Regions from separate parts of the Homo sapiens genome. Here region 1 is linked to region 2. The links come from fine-mapping of genetic effects on gene expression. Tissue or cell type: whole blood. Region 2 holds a variant in brackets; the other region holds the start of a gene. All regions are shown on one strand. Distances are from middle to middle.

What was found. PIP is the estimated chance that this variant, and not a neighbour inherited with it, causes the effect.
Region 1: UPF3A starts here. The variant in region 2 is fine-mapped to the expression of UPF3A in whole blood (TOPMed, PIP above 0.99).

What each region holds. Positions count from the first base shown.
Region 1 is chr13:114,276,621-114,284,620 of GRCh38, reverse strand. UPF3A (UPF3A regulator of nonsense mediated mRNA decay) reads right to left here and starts at 3,020. Exons shown (of 10, transcript NM_023011.4): 1 at 2,775-3,020; 2 at 2,494-2,600; 3 at 1,678-1,784. The coding sequence starts at 2,981. It overlaps LOC105370384 (a long non-coding RNA gene), which reads left to right and starts at 3,552. Exons shown (of 4, transcript XR_007063887.1): 1 at 3,552-4,518. RefSeq lists silencers at 189-385, 2,003-2,212, 2,593-2,772, 3,003-3,272 and enhancers at 2,352-3,039, 3,493-3,792.
Region 2 is chr13:114,217,151-114,225,486 of GRCh38, reverse strand. CFAP97D2 (CFAP97 domain containing 2) reads right to left here. Exons shown (of 4, transcript NM_001395229.1): 4 at 2,402-2,986. The coding sequence ends at 2,980. Among named protein-coding and RNA genes, the nearest start is that of CDC16, 14 kb to the left of the region's middle. The variant C/T (reference allele first, on the strand shown) is at 4,245.

The DNA.
Region 1 (8,000 bases), 59 kb before region 2:
TTCAAGTGAGTCTCATGCCTCAGTCTCCCAAGTATCTGAGATTACAGGCATGCCTCATGATGCCTGGCTAATTTTTTTTTTTTTTTAGTAGAGACAGGGTTTCACCATCTTGGCCAGGCTGGTCTCGAACCCCTGACCTCAACTGATCTACATTCCTCGGCCTCCCAAAGTGCTGGGATTACAGGAGTGAGCCATCACACCTGGCCATGTTACACATATTTTACACACACACACACATATACATACACGTACATACACATACATATTTTTTTGCTCCGTCGCCCCGGCTGGGATGCAGTGGCATGATCTCGGCTCACTGCAACCTCCGCCTCCCAGGTTCAAGCAATTCTCCTGTCTCAGTCTTCCGAGTAGCTGGGACTACAGGCGCCTGCCACCATGCCTGGCTAATTTTTGTATTTTTAGTAGAGACAGGGTTTCACGTTGTTGCTCAGGCCGGTCTCGAACTCCTGACCTCGTGATCCACCCGCCTTGGCCTCCTAAAGTGCTGGGATTACAGGTGTGAGCCACTGTGCCCGGCCCACCAATATTTTTTAAGTGAAAAAGGGAAACTCAGTAAGTTACTGAATAAATGAGCAATGAACACAAAGGTCAGTTCAAGCATCACATTTGCTTCTAGTCACAGGAACTAGCTTGGCTAATGCTTATTTTTTTAACAATCTTTCTAGTCCTTACCCCTCATTGGAGAAAAAGAAAACACTCATCAGTGTCAAAACACGTGGAGTCGGAAGAGGGTGGCTGGGGAGGGGAGGGCAGAAAACAACTTGCTGTGAAAGGTATACAAACTTGACAGCCAGGAACACAACAGCAGACAGCCTGACAGGAGAAGAGAAGGAAAAAGATGAAAGCAGAACCCTAGAAGTACTGATAAGGGAACTATTGAGAGTAGAGTTGAAGACTGCTGTCTCCGCAGGCAAAGCTGTTTAACAGCAGTGACTTCCTGGTGACATTATCATAAATGGTACAGTCATGAAGGATGCTGTTTAGGAAGATAGAAGTCAGTGTACATTTTGGAAAATTCCTATCAGGTAAAATAGTTTAGCTTTAGAACCTAAAAAGATCAAGTTCTCTCATGCAACAAACTCACTCATGAAAACCTTCATTCTCTGATGATAATACATAAATAGGCTGTCACTATTACACAGAATTTCTGGAATTTTTTTGGATTAAATAATAAAATTAAATAATTTCAATTTTTAATATCTGCACATAATTACAGTAACATAATCAAAATTTATAAACTTATTTTAGTCTGAGAACTTTTTAATTAAAATGCACAAATAGACCGGATGCTGTGGCTCACGCCTGTAATCCCAGCACTTTGGGAGGCTGAGGTGGGAGGATCACTTGAAGCCAGGAGTTCAAGACCAGCCTGGGCAACACAGTGAGACCCCCGTCTCTACACAATTTTTTTTTTAAATCAGCCGATCATGGTGGCACACGCCTGTGGTCCCTGCTACCTAGGAGGCTGGAGGATTGCTTGAGCCGCAGTGTGAGGCTGCAGTGAGCCGTGATTGCGGCTGCTGCACTCCAGCCTGGGCAACAGAGCAAGACCCTGTCTCAAAAAATAATAATAATTTAAAAAGCACGAATATTCTAGCAATACTTCATTAGTATACCTACAGATTATAATAGATTTTTAAAAACCAATAATCCAACCTTTGCTGTCAAGGAAGATATATCCATCAAAACGATCTCTAAAAAGAAGGATGTCATCAGGATTCCTAAAATTAATGTATGCTCTTGAGTAGAGATGAGGATAAAGACTGAAATAAGAGATAACAGTGAAAATGGTCAGTGAAAAATACAATAGTCCATTAATTTAGCCTCTTTTTCCTTTTCTGGGCACAACAAACTACTTTAGATAAAACTTTTGTGCCAAATCATCTCAGTTAATTGTAACAACTTGGATATTCTTTAGCAAAAACAAACGCAAAACGTTAACTTTACAAGGCAGAACTCAGGTCCCTTCTCCACTGCCCAGAACCGGTCCTCCGAGGCTGAAACCCTAAGGCAAGGCCAGGGCGCACTCCCAGAGGAACCCGTGGCGCCGAGAGACTCTCCTGACTTGGGGACCTTCTCCGGTATTTAAAACCGCACTGGCTGCGGCACCAGCGTGGAGGCCACAGGAAGAGCCGGCGCCCCCCGGCCCCGCAGCGCCCCGTCCGCGGACGAGCAGGGAAGCCCGGGAGGCGCCGGGCGGGCAACGCTGGTCCTTTCAAAGGCACCCGCTTTCCTAAGCGTTAGCCGTCTGAAAATCATCCGCATTTTTCATGTAAACCACATCTGTGTTTCTTTGTTGGTGGTATTTTTCTTTGACGGAACGGACACGTTTTACTGAAATGTATTTATTCAAAAAGCTCACACGACTCCCATATAGGAGAAATCAGGGTAAGGAACGTAAGGCAACGAGACGGCCACCGCCGCCGAGCTCTGGGTTCCGCCCTCTCTTCCTCCCCTCGGGGCGGGCCTCACCTCAGGTCGGCGGCGAAGAACTCGAAGTAGTCGTGTGCTGGCAGCGGGCGCAGCTGCTCCTCCAGCTGCTCCTTGGTGAGGCCCGGAGGCAGGCGGCGGATGACCACCTGCGGGGAGCGCGCGGCCGTTCCCACCGGGGCGGAGCGTGGACAAGGAGCTCAAAAGGCACCGCGTACCGCGCTGGGAGGCCCGGCCCCCGCCCCTCCCTCCCCTCCCTCCCCTCCCTCCACTCAGGGCCGTCCTCTCCTCGCGAGGTTTGCGCGCCCCGCCCCCGTCCCCACCTTGCTCAGGGCCGTCCTCTTCTCCTCGCGAGGTTTGCCCGCACCGCCCCCGCAACCGGAGGACGAAGTTGGCGGCGTCTCAGCCTCCTGCTGCTGCGAGTCGCGGTGGAACTGCACTTCTAGGGCCGACAGCTTCTCCCTCCCGCTCGGGCCCCGCGCGGCAACGGCCGCCCGAAGGCCTCCGGCCCCCTCCTTTTCCGAGCGCATGCCGCACTCTCCGCCGAGCCGCAGCCGCCAGCCCCCGACGAAACCTCGCGAGAGCTCGGCCGCCCCAGCCCCGCCCCTCCTCGAGCCGCGGCGGTCGGGGCCGCCCACGAAGGGGTCAGGCGCTGCGGGACTAGTCGGGGTCGGGGTGGTGACCTCCGGCCACACAGCCTGGCTTTCCGCCGGGTCAGGCGGCCCCTCAGGGAGCGGCGGCCGCGGTTTAGGGCGGCCCCGGAAGCGGGGCGCCGGCGGCTTTGGTCCGGGCGTGGTGGGAGGAGTTCGCGGACAAGCCGCCCTCCCATCCCAGCACCGTTTTTATCCCACTCCCCCAGGCTCTCCGTGGCCGGGGCGCCATGAAAGCCGGGTTCACATTTGAATTCTTAATTTTTTTGGAGACAGTCTCGCTCTGTCGCCCAGACCGGAGTGCAGTGGCGCGATCTCGGCTCACTGCAGCCTCTGCCTCAGCCTCCTGAGTGGCTGGGACCTACAGGCACGCGCCACCACCCCTGGCTAATTTTTTTGTTTTTTTAAAGTAGAGACGGGGTTTCACCTTGTTGGCCAGGATGGTCTCGGTAACTCCTGACCTCAAGTGATCCGCCCACCTCGGCCTCCCAAAGTGCTGGGATTACAGGCATGAGCCACCGCTCCGGGCCCTTGCACATATTTTTTTATGAACACACAGGCAGCAGCACTTTGATTACAGTAACTTACATGGAAGTTATTTTAAAATGGCTTTCCCCTTCTCTTTTTCATGTAGGCTGCATTTTTCATCTGCAGCACGCTTTCTCTCAAGAATCTCAAGCACACACAAGAAACCAGAGAGTAAAATCACTGAGGCGTGAACACATCCAGAGACCAAGGGCGTCACTGGCAGAAAAGCTTTTAGGCGGATCCACGGCCCGAGAGCCACCCTGCCCAGAGACGCGGTTTCCTAGGAGCAGTTCACACGCGGCTCTGCAGCACCCACAAGCGGGGCCAGGGGCTGGTTTTCATAGTTCACAGTCTGCAGGGATCTTAACAAAAACATGGCCGTGGTAAAAGTGCCTAGACCAGGCTTTCGTCACAACTCAGTGAGTAGGAAGACTAGTTAGGCTGATGAAAAGCTCTGATGATGTGTGATTAAAAGTAGGAAAACGTGGTTGCCAAATAAAATATTTTACTATATAGTCAGGGGGAGAGATGGGGATAAAAAAATGTGGAAACCATTTATTTTAAAATTTTGACTGTTCCTGCAGTGTTTAAAATATAGGAGATATATTCTGATTATCTTTAGAAAGAAACTGCTCTCAATCTATTTGTATGTCTTCCCTCTGGTTTTAAAATATTAAACAATCATCTAACTCAATATTTAATTTTACCTCTAGTCATGTTACTAGGTTAGGATAATAAAAAGGACTGTGAACTTCACATCTGCCATCTATAATAGATTCTTATTGTAGCAATCTTGCACCAAGGGGATTTCTTTATTAACTCTGCCAAATTTTCCAAAATTACCAAATGGAGAAAAGAGCTGGTCCCATCTGTCACCAGGCACAACCAGGTCAGTAACTTAGGGTATTTCTTGTGTTCATGTTTTGCCCTCACCACTGCAAAGCCCTGTTCTCGGCCTGGTGCCTCTGCACACCTCTGAAGCCAGGTTGGCCTCAGCCAATGTGAGGGACCCTTCATTTGACCTTCCCCAGAACCTTGAGTATTTCCACTTCTCCCTTCACTGCACTGTACCCTAAAGGGACTCACATGTTTGCTGGATGTGTATATTTCGTAAACCTAGCCAGCAAAATGTCCAAATGTTTTTCCCCCCAAGTCAATTTTTTAACACCCTTCTGATTCTTTACTTCCTGTTATTGCAAAGTTCTGAAAAATGATTTTGAAAAAAAGGTAGGATTTTAGAATTCAGCTGTTTGATGAAATTATCTTTAAATAAAACCATATGAATTTTAAGATACAGTGAATGAAATACACTTGTAAAATAGCTTATGATTTTACATGACAAATTATATCACAAAGAAAAGCTAGCTTCCTACACATTAGCCAGCCTGTTGAAATGCTCTGTTTGATACATGTACAGAACTTTACAGCCAAAGCAAAGCAGGAAGAAATATCTCCAAATCCTTCTTCATGTGGGCTTTTAGTATGTAACTTTACTTTTGCTTAACTGAACACTTCCATCTGTGAATGTGGCCCTGGGCTACATTTTACTTGGTAGCCCCTATCTCATTGGTAGATGACAGTGACTTGAAGCTGGTGACCGTAACACTTCCCAGTATTTCCTTTAACGATAACACAGCCACTGTAGTTAGCAAACAGGACACCTTTTTAGGATAAACTGTGTCCTGAGATACTGAAGAATTGGGTAGTAACAGGAACAATACTTGGCAGTACGACACATTGTTTTTACTCTCAGAGGCCTAAACACTGGTGTTAACACTGCTGCTGATCCGAATTACAGCTTACTCAAGTGTCTGAACCTTTTGACATTCACTTACAGAAACCAGAAAAATTCTAACAGTGATCAATGAGAAAACTAAATGGTTTTTTTTTTTTTTTTGCTCTGGCAGGAAAAATAAATGTAAAAAACTCAGCACTTTATTAATATAATACTTTCATTTTAGTTGTTTTAAAAATAATTACCTTAAGTTCAGTCACTTGATTTTTTAGCCCCAACTCAAGACAGGGGAGGCATACATGATGCCTGACAGAGAGACAGAAAAGCCATTTAAAAATGAAAACATGAAAACGCATTAGTTTGAGTCTAATTTAGCGTGGGGTAACTCATGGTCTCTAAATGTATTACTGCATTAACTTCCAGCGCGATACCTGACTTTCACCATGATGAATGGAGACAGGATGGGGTCTGAATGCTAGTCTTCAATGCACCATACAACAGTGCTAGACCCTCATCAGTATGAAGGGGAACAAAGCCCTCCTTAAAAGATTTACTAGAGTTAACACCTGGGGATCCTCAAGAAATGAATGCTATCATTGTTCTGCTTCAGAAGGTAGAAATACAGGGAATACACTTCAGATAGGTTAAGATAAAAAGTTTTGTGTTTAAGGCAGCACCTCAGTTGCCTGGAAAATTCACTTCTGTATAATGCCTAATTTGTTAATGATGCCGTGAATAGATGCTTTCTAATAACTACACAAGTTTGTTTTTATGAAAAAGTAGAGTAACATGTCCTCTGATGTTAGTAGTAGGAGAGTTTGAATAAAGGACTTTAAACAAATGAAGCATATAATCCTCTCTCTTTATTAGAATGATGAAGAGTGGGGGTGTTGTCTGTTTATACAGTTATCACCTAGGAGTCATATCAAGATTCTTTTCCTAATCTCAGTGAAGAGGTTAAAAAAAAGTTTAAAGATTAGAGATTTAGTAGAATTGTCTTGTAGCACCTTTTTAAAATAAAATTTTTAAACGTATCTTTTCAGACCGGGCGCTGTGGCTCAAGCCTGTAATCCCAGCACTTTCAGAAGCTGAAGCAGGTGCATCATTTGACGTCAGGAGTTTGAGATCAGCCTGGCCAACATGGTGAAACCCCGTCTCTACTAAAAATACAAAAATTAGCTGGGTGTGGTGGCAGGAGCCTGTAATCCCAGCTACTCAGTAGGCTGAGACAGGAGGATTGCTTGAGTCCGAGAGGCAGAGGTTGCAGTGAGCCGATATCACGCCACTGCACTCCAGCCAGGGCAACACAGTGAGCCTCCGTCTCAAAAAACAAACAAATTTTAACATATCTTTTCACAAAATCAATCACCAGCCAAATGTGTAAAACTATGTAAGAACTTTTCCTTCTTGACCCCAACAAATGGGGCATTTCCATCTGTTCCGCTATGGCTGATTTCAGATGCTCCTACAAAACAGGGAATCCAGCTGTGACATATTTTAAATATCATTACTGATAGACACCTGCTTATTTCACATAGATTCAGTTTTCAATCTTATGTGAGAAAACTGCAAAAGATGTTAAAATAATGGAATAAAAAACAGGCCAAGAGAGCCTATAACATTTGCCAACAGTTAAAAGGATACGTCACCAAATTAGTATGTGAGAAAATAGGTAAAATTCAATTTCTTTATCTTATACATACCAGGAGGTAGCAATTACAAAGAATAGTGAATCACATTTATTTTATAGAACACAATTATAACTTAGCACCAATAGCTGTTCAATTCTTTGAGCTTTTTAAAGCATCATAAAATGTGTTAATAGCTGAGTTTGTTACCTTAAATACTATGACTTTCAAAAGTTAAACTGAAATTTGATAAGTACTGCAATTTATTTTATATGACTATTATTTAGCTATAGTTGTGTTTTTTGTTTTTTTTTTTTTTTGAGATGGAGTCTCGCTCTGTCACCCAGGCTGGAGTGCAGTGGCGCAATCTCAGCTCACTGCAGGCTCCGCCTCCCAGGTTCACACCATTCTCCTGTCTCAGCCTCCTGAGTAGCTGGGACTACAGGCACCCACCACTACACCCGGCTAATTTTTTGTATTTTTAGTAGAGACGGGGTTTCACCGTGTTAGCCAGGAGGGTCTCAATCTCCTGACCTCGTGATCCGCCCGCCTCAGCCTCCCATAGTGCTAGGATTACAGGCGTGAGCCACTGCGCCCAGCCTATAGTTTTTTTTTAATATGACTAATATTTAGTTATAGTTTTAAGACAGCAGTGACGTCACAGAAAACGGCAGGGCAGGAAGCTTCAGGGATTAATTGGTTCTTCCACCAAAACCACCATTAAGCTGGACAACAAATTAGCAGAATCAACTGTTTTCTAACTCTGTCACCTCATCAGATGCTTACTGCAACCCGGGGAAGGCTTGATGATGCAGAGGCTGCAGCTTTTTGGTTAAGAGGGTGGTGTGGATGGACAGCCAACCTACCTGCTGCAGCCTGTCCTCAGCGAGGACCCTGTGCATTTTGGTCACATGATGGTGCCCTGAGGGACCAGCGTCGATGCGTGCCTTTGTCTCGACCCCCTCAGGCTGCAGCAATTTCCCCAATACCATCTATCAGAAAATTTAG
Region 2 (8,336 bases):
CCCTCCCCTCCCCCTTTCCCTCCCCCTCCCTCCCCTTCCCCTCCCCCCTCCCCCCTCCCCTTCCTCCCCTCCCCTTTCCCCCCTCACTTCTCCTCCCCTCCCTAGCCCTTCCCCCTCCCCCTCCCTCCTCTGTCCTCCTCCTCCTCCTTCTGTCTCTTCCCCTCCTCTTCCACTATAGGACTACTTTTCTACCTTCTTTTCCCTTCTCCCTTCTTCTCTCCCTCCTTTATTTTCTTCCTTTCTATATTTAACACGTATTTCCTGTGTGCCCACCTCACACAGGATAGACAGGCTTCTGTCCTCACTGCTCCATCCATTATATTTATGATGGTTTTAAAGCATTTCAAAGTTCTATAGGTTTCAATTAATTTGATACCCAGAGTAACATGGGACAGACACATCTCTGGATCTGAAAATGCACCTGGTACTTGACTTTTCAGGTCATCAGAGCTTGTGGGTGGCTGGTTTTTACACTAAGGCTGCTGGCAGGATGCTCATTTGTCCACTGACTCTCTGAGCAAAGTCCAGAAGGGAAAAGAGCTGACATTATGGCTCTTCTGTGTAATGGCAAGATTTTGTCTACTTCTTGACTATGTGTAGCAATTTGTCAGTCTTTATAAACTGTTTGCTCTCTGGAAAGAGAGATTGAAAAGAGAACAATGTTCTCAGGACCAGACAGCAGCCTTTCTAGTTTTGTGATAGATCCTTTGACGTTCATTGCATTAGGGCCCATCAGGGAGGGCTGGCAGAGGCCAGGACTCCTACAGCACAACCCTTGTGGGGTGGAACAAGGTGGGGACACACAGGCAGGCACATTCGGAAAATGCTGCCAGAGTCAACCCTAAACTGCCACCTCGAAAAGGAGGTGCAAATTCGAGGCTTGCAAACCAAGGACACAAATCGCTATGGAGAGGCCATTTTTTCCATCAAGTTTAGCACAGACGTGGACTGTTAATGGAGGTCCTGTGCCCAGTTGCGCTTCACGACACAGGGGGGCGGGGCTGCCTGGAGAGGTCATGGCTGCAGTGGGCAGAGGCCCAGCTCCTCCCGGCCCGATGCCGGCATCTCAGGCTCCAGCACCACCTGCTGCACAGGAGAGGCTTCGGGAGGTCCACTCGGGGGATCAGCAGGAGACCCAGAATCCACATCCAGGCCTGTCTGACCCCACAGTCTGTGATTTTAAACACTGTCAATGGAAGGTCCACCCTGAGGAGCGGTGAGGAACCTGGGATTGCCGAATTCTGCATGGAGGAGCCGGAGGCAAGCTCTGCTATTCATGTCAAGTGTATTTTAAAGGGGCTTGTGCATAAAGGAATGAAATAAGGAATGAAATTAGCTGCTGCTTCTTTTTTTTTTTTTTTTTTTTTTTGGTAGAGACGGGGTCTCATCATGTGGCCCAGGCTGGTCTTGAATTCCTGGGCTCATGCGACCCTCCCACCTTGGCCTCCCAAACTGCTGGGAATGTAGGTGTGCGATACCATGCCCAGCCTGAAATTATCTTCTTATTTTCATTCAAACAAAACAAAACAAAAATTTAAATCTATAATATAGGTTAAAAATAGCAAAGAGTACTTTGGGAGGCCAAGGCAGACAGATCACCTGAGGTCAGGCATTCAAGACCAGCCTGGTCAACATGGTGAAACCCCGTCTCTACTAAAAATACAAAAATTAGCTGGGAGTGGTGGTGCATGTGCCTGTAATCCCATCCATCTCAAAAAATAAATAAATAAAATAAAAATAATAAATAAATAAATAGCAAAGAGTAGTTAGGGACCGTGACATTTCTGAGGGGCTAGCTATCAGCTCCATGAGGCTGAGACTACATATGCAGAGTTCTGTTGAATGAATGAAGGTGTGTGTGAGTCTTTTAACTCATTTTTAAAAGGCATTGCCCATGGGCTGATGTTCATTGTTGTGGAACAGCTTAGGCGGGATCTTACCTGGGGCTGATAGAGAACTAAGCAGATCCCAAGGGCTCTCAGACATACCCTTGATGTCTCCAACCGAGACTCTCTGGGTCCTTTTTTCTTTTCTTTTCTTTTCTTTTTTCTTTCTTTTTTTTTTTTTTTTTGAGATGGAGTCTTGCTCTGTCGCCCCGGTTGGAGTGCAGTGGCGCGTTCTCGGCTCACTGCAACCTCCATCTCCCAGGTTCAAGCGATTCTCCTGCCTCAGCCTTCTGAGTAGCTGGGATTACAGGTGCCCGCCACCATGCCTGGCTAACTTCTTTGTATTTTTAGTAGAGATGGGGTTTCACCATGTTGGTCAGGCTGGTCTCGAACTCCTCACCTTGTGATCCGCCCACCTCGGCCCCTCAAAGTGCTGGGATTACAGGCGTGAGCCATCGTGCCTGGCCCTCTGGGTCTTTTTTATATCTTAGGTTATGTATTCTGGAGTCAAGCTGTAGTTTCATCACGTTCAAAAATTTTAATCTGATTTATTTAGATATTTGTTAAAGGAACAATCACAGAGCTTTTAAGGTAAGTTAAAAATCCACCTAGGAATTATAGACAAATCCACCACAGCTCAAAATACAGTAACAGAATAAGTCTTCATAGCTAGAGAAAACAATCTAATTCAAACCCTCACCTCCTAACATGACTCTGCATAGTTTGTTTCCAGTTATCAGAGTCCAAGAAGCACAGAAAATAGTTTTGCTGCGTCATCTGCTCGGGCACATTGTTGAAACACCGTTTGAGGAGCTGCCTCCTGGGCACTTCACAGCTGCTCCGGCTGTGATAACAGTGAAGAGAGGAAGACAGCGGGGCTGCCCTGGCCCCGGCCCTGGGCAAGGCTGATTCCCCACACTGCCCTGAGACCGCTGGCTGTGTTAGCCTGGGGGAGCTCATGGCTGGCCTTGTGGGTCTTCCTTGTGACTCCCTCATCACACTTGTCTTCTTTCTGGATTTGTGTTCTGAATCCTTACCCTTCCTCACTTCTCTTTTAGGGTCCAGGCTTGGCTGTGCGCTTGCTAATCCAGTTTCACTTCCTGCTGGATTTAAAATACATATTTGAAACTAACGCTTTCTTAGGCAAGAACAAGAAACTATCAACTTACTTGGGAAATGGAATATTTCAACTCATTGACAAGTCTTTACTTAGAATTAAACATACAATTTTTAAAATAACAGCTTTATTTAGATACAATTCTATACCCCTTTATAGTGTATATTTTAGTGTGTTTTGGTATATTCAGAGTTGTGCAACTATTGTCACAATATAATTTCAGAACATCTTCATCACCTCCCCCTCCAAAAATCAAACTCCTTTGGGATCACTCCCCAATTTCCCTTCCCCCAGCCCCGACAACCACTGATTACTTTTTGTCTCTTTGAATGTGCCTATTCTGGACATTTCATATAAAAGGGATCAGACAACATGCGGCATTTAGTATCCAGCTTTTTCACGGAACATAATAATGTCTTTAAGGTTTATCCATTCTGTAACTAGTATCATTCCTTTTTATGGTAGAATAATATTCCATTCTATGGCTATACCACGTTTTATCTGTTCATCAGTTGATAGACATTTGGGTTGTTTACACCTCTTGGTCATTGTGAACTGTGCTGCTATGAACATCAGTGTATGGGTTTTTGCATGAATGTATGTTTTCAAGTCTCTCGAATATAGACCTAGGAGTGGAGTTGCTGGGTGATTTGGTAACTGTTTAACTTTTTGATGAACTACCAAACTGTTTTCCAAAGTGGCTGCACCACTCTTTTTTTTTCTTTTCATTTTAAGTTTGTGTACCTTTTATTTCATTTCCTTTTTTTTTTATTACACTTTAAGTTCTAGGGTACATGTGCACAATGTGCAGGTTTGTTACATATGTATACATACCACTGTTTACCCCTACCAGCAGCCTATGAGGGTTCCAGTTTCTCCACATCCTTATTGTAATCTACCTTTTGATTGCAGACAAGTTAGTGGCTGCAAGTGACATCTCACTGTGGTCTTCATTTGCATTTACTAATAACATTGAACATCTTCTCATGCACTTATTGGCCATTTGTATATCCTGTTGGGAGAAATCTCTATTCAAATAATCAGATAACCTTTTGTCAGTTTTGTTGTTAAACATCTTTCTGAAATGCAGCAAAGTACTTTTCCCGGAATCAGTAAACTGAGCCATGTTGGCTTGTTGCTGGATGGTAAAGGGCCTTCAGGAGGAAAAAGGAAAGAAACTCAAATTTATCTTTTGCCAAGTAAGTGTGAGTCACTTTTTTTGTTTTTTTGTTTTTTTGAGA[C/T]GTAGTCTCGCTCTGTCGCCTAAGCTGGAGTGCAGTGGCGCGATGTCGGCTCACTGCAACCTCCGCCTCCCTGGTTCAAGCGATCCTCCTGCCTCAGCCTCCTGAGTAGCTGGGACTACAGGCGCACGCCACTACACTCAGCTAATTTTTGTATTTTTAGTAGAGACGGGGTTTCACCATGTTGGCCAGGATGGTCTCGATCTCCTGAAATCGTGATCCGCCTGTCTCGGCCTCCCGAAGTGCTGGGATTACAGGCATGAGCCACCATGCCCAGCCAAGTGTGAGTCACTTTCACAGTCATTTTTGCAAATGTTATTCACTTAACCCTGACGTGAGGTCCAGGAGGTGGTTCCTGTCCCATCTTTAGAAGCGAGAATGGGGCTCCCCGAGGCTGAGCTTTTGTCCGAGATGATGGTTGGAGGCCAAGGAGCTCAAAGCCAACTCACATCCATTGTGTGTCCTGTGTCAACCTGCACTGAGTCAGCCGATTATTTAAACAGCTAATTTTGCTCCTGGAGATCATTTGTGTTTGTTTAATTTTTGCTTCTTTCTCATGTGCAGGAGTTATTGGGGTTGGGGCACTAAATTAGAGCAATGCATACTTCCAGTTAGCTGGGGGCTCCAGGAAGTGCCAGGATGGCCAGTGGGTTTTGTTGGATAATCTTATATAAATCCTTCAGTAGAAACAGGTACAAAATTATTATCTTCTCATTTTGGAGTTAGGGATAAATGACTTGAAGGGGTAAGGAGGATGGAAAATTGAAATCCTTCCTTTAAAATGTTTGAGAAATTTTGCGAGTTAATATTTAAACCAGATTGAGATATCCAGGAGACTAGCAGTACAGCCTCCGTCAGGTGAAGCTTTGGGGCAGAGGAGAGGGGCCTGGGCTCTGGAGAGCAGGGAAGGGGTTCTCTGCCAGTGTCATGAATTTCTGGGACTATAAAGGTAAAGTGATGTGTCCCATCCATGCGAGGCCAGCGAAGATCCCAGAGCAAAGATCCCGGATCCCAAAGGTCTGGCAGCTGGCCGAACCATAGGGAGGTGGTCCAACAGCAGGTCAAGGTGGCCGCTGGGCCCAGGAGGGTCTTCTGAAGGCTGTGTTTCAGGTTTCTGGTCTCATAACACTTAGCATTTTTCTTTCCTAAACCTACAGTTTTCAAATAAATTAACTTTGTTTTTCTTTCTAAAATGAGAAGACGTGTGTGCCGTGCTCCCTCGTCGCCAGCTTGGTACGTGGCTGGTCTGTTTCCAAGGTGGGGAAGCACCACCGAGAGACGCATTCACGTTCCAGTAGTTCAAAACTGCAGACCCCATGGCAGAGAAGGGGACTGAAGACTGAGGTACCCTATGGCCCTGGGCCCATCGCCTCCTTCCTCCCTCACACACAGGAGCCAAAGGCCCTAGGAGCTTAAAGATGCTGCTGAGAAAGCCATCTTCTTGGGACACACAGACCATAATTCCAGCTTGAGGTTCAGAGACAATGAGTCGTTTCCCATGTTTCCCGTTTTTGTCCAGGTACAGGGCAGTGGGGGAGGCATGCCTCGGAGCCAGTGTCCTGCAAGAGCCTGCCCCTCCCCAGCTCTGTCTTGGAGCCTACACTTGAACCATATTGCCAAAGCTGGGGACTTCAATAAAGTGCAGTGACTGGTCTGTGGCTGCAGGAAACTCTTTCTAGTGCTTCTGTTTTCCCTTTTTTTGTTTGACTTTATCTTAACATTGCTTTTGTGGTGGGCTTTATCTGTTTCCTGTTACATAAAGCAGGAAGAATAAGAGAGCCAAAGAAAGTAAATGAAGTATAAATTTGAAACATTGGTTGCAAGCACTGTCTTGACATTTGCTGAGGAAAAACTCAATAGTATTAATATAAGAGGAGGAAAAGTAAGGAAATGAAAACAAAAGAGCCAGAAATGAGAACAAATACAATATACTTATGTCAATACATATAAATGGATAAAACTGAGCGGGGAAAGCCTCTGGGACTAGGTTAAAATGCAAAATTATGCTATTCTGTTTATGAGACAATATAAAATAAAATGACCCAAAGATATTAAAAATAAAATGATGTAAATTTGTTTGAGTTCTTTGTAGATTCTGGATATTAGCCCTTTGTCAGATGAGTAGATTGCAAAAATTTTCTCCCATTCCGTAGGTTGCCTGTTCACTCTGATGGTAGTTTCTTTTGCTGTGCAGAAGTTCTTTAGTTTAATTAGATCCCATTTGTCAATTTTGGCTTTTGTTGCCATTGCTTTTGGTGTTTTAGTCATGAAGTCCTTGCCCATGCCTATGTCCTGAATGGTATTGCCTAGGTTTTCTTCTAGGCTTTTTATGGTTTTAGGTCTTACATTTAAGTCTTCAATCCATCTTGAATTAATTTTTGTATAAGGTGTAAGGAAGGGATCCAATTTCAGCTTTCTACATGTGGCTAGCCAGTTTTCCCAGCACCATTTATTAAATAGGGAATCCTTTCCCCATTTCTTGTTTTTGTCAGGTTTGTCAAAGATCAAATGGTTGTAGATGTGTATTATTGTTTCTGAGGGCTCTGTTCTGTTCCATTGGTCTATATCTCTGTTTTGGTACCAGTATCATGCTGTTTTGGTTACTGTAGCCTTGTAGTATAGTTTGAAGTCAGGTAACATGATGCCTCCAGCTTTGTTCTTTTGGCTTAGGATTGTCTTTGCAATGTGGGCTCTTTTTTGGTTCCATATGAACTTCAAAGTAGTTTTTTCCAATTCTGTGAAGAAAGTCATTGGTAGCTTGATGGGGATGGCATTGAATCTATAAATTACCTTGGGCAGTATGGCCATTTTCACTATATTGATTCTTCCTATCCATGAGCGTGGAATGTTCTTCCATTTGTTTGTGTCTTCTTTTATTTTGTTGAGCAGTGGTTTATAGTTCTCTTTGAAGAGGTCCTTCACATCCCTTGTAAGTTGGATTCCTAGGTATTTTATTCTCTTTGAAGCAATTGTGAATGGGAGTTCACTCATGATTTGGCTCTCTGTTTGTCTGCTATTGGTGCATAAGAATGCTTGTGATTTTTGCACATTGATTTTGTATCCTGAGACTTTGCTGAAGTTGCTTATCAGCTTAAGGAGATTTTGGGGTGAGATGATGGGGTTTTCTAAATATACAATCACGTCATCTGCAAACAGGGACAATTTGACTTCCTCTTTTCCTAATTGAATACCCTTTATTTCTTTCTCCTGCCTGATTGCCCTGGCCAGAACTTCCAACACTATGTTGAATAGGAGTGGTGAGAGAGGGCATCCCTGTCTTGTGCCAGTTTTCAAAGGGAATGCTTCCAGTTTTTGCCCATTCAGTGTGATATTGGCTGTGAGTTTGTCATAAATAGCTCTTATTATTTTGAGATACGTCCTATCAATACCGAATTTATTGAGAGTTTTTAGCATGAAGGGCTGTTGAATTTTGTCAAAGGCCTTTTCTGTATCTATTGAGATAATCATGTGGTTTTTGTCATTAGTTCTGTTTATATGCTGGATTACATTTATTGATTTGCATATGTTGAACCAGGCTTGCATCCCAGGGATGAAGCCTACTTGATCATGGTGGATAAGCTTTTTGATGTGCTGCTGGATTCGGTTTGCCAGTATTTTATTGAGGATTTTTGCATTGATGTTCACCAGGGATATTGGTCTAAAATTCTCTTTCTTTGTTGTGTCTCTGCCAGGCTTTGGTATCAGGATGATGCTGGCCTCATAAAATGAGTTAGGGAGGATTCCCACTTTTTCTATTGATTGGAATAGTTTCAGAAAGAATGGTATCAGCTCCTCCTTGCACCTCTGGTAGAATTCGGCTGTGAATCCATCTGGTCCTGGACTTTTTTTGGATGGTAGGCTATTATTGCCTCAATTTCAGAACCTGTTATTGGTGTATTCAGGGATTCAACTTCTTCCTGGTTTAGTCTTGGGAGGGTGTATGTGTCCAGGAATTTATCCATTTCTTCTAGATTTTCTAGTTTATTTGCGTAGAGGTGTTTATAGTATTCTCTGATGGTAGTTTGTATTTCTGTGGGATCAGTGGTGATATCCCCTTTATCATTTTTTATTGCATCTATTTGATTCTTCTCTCTT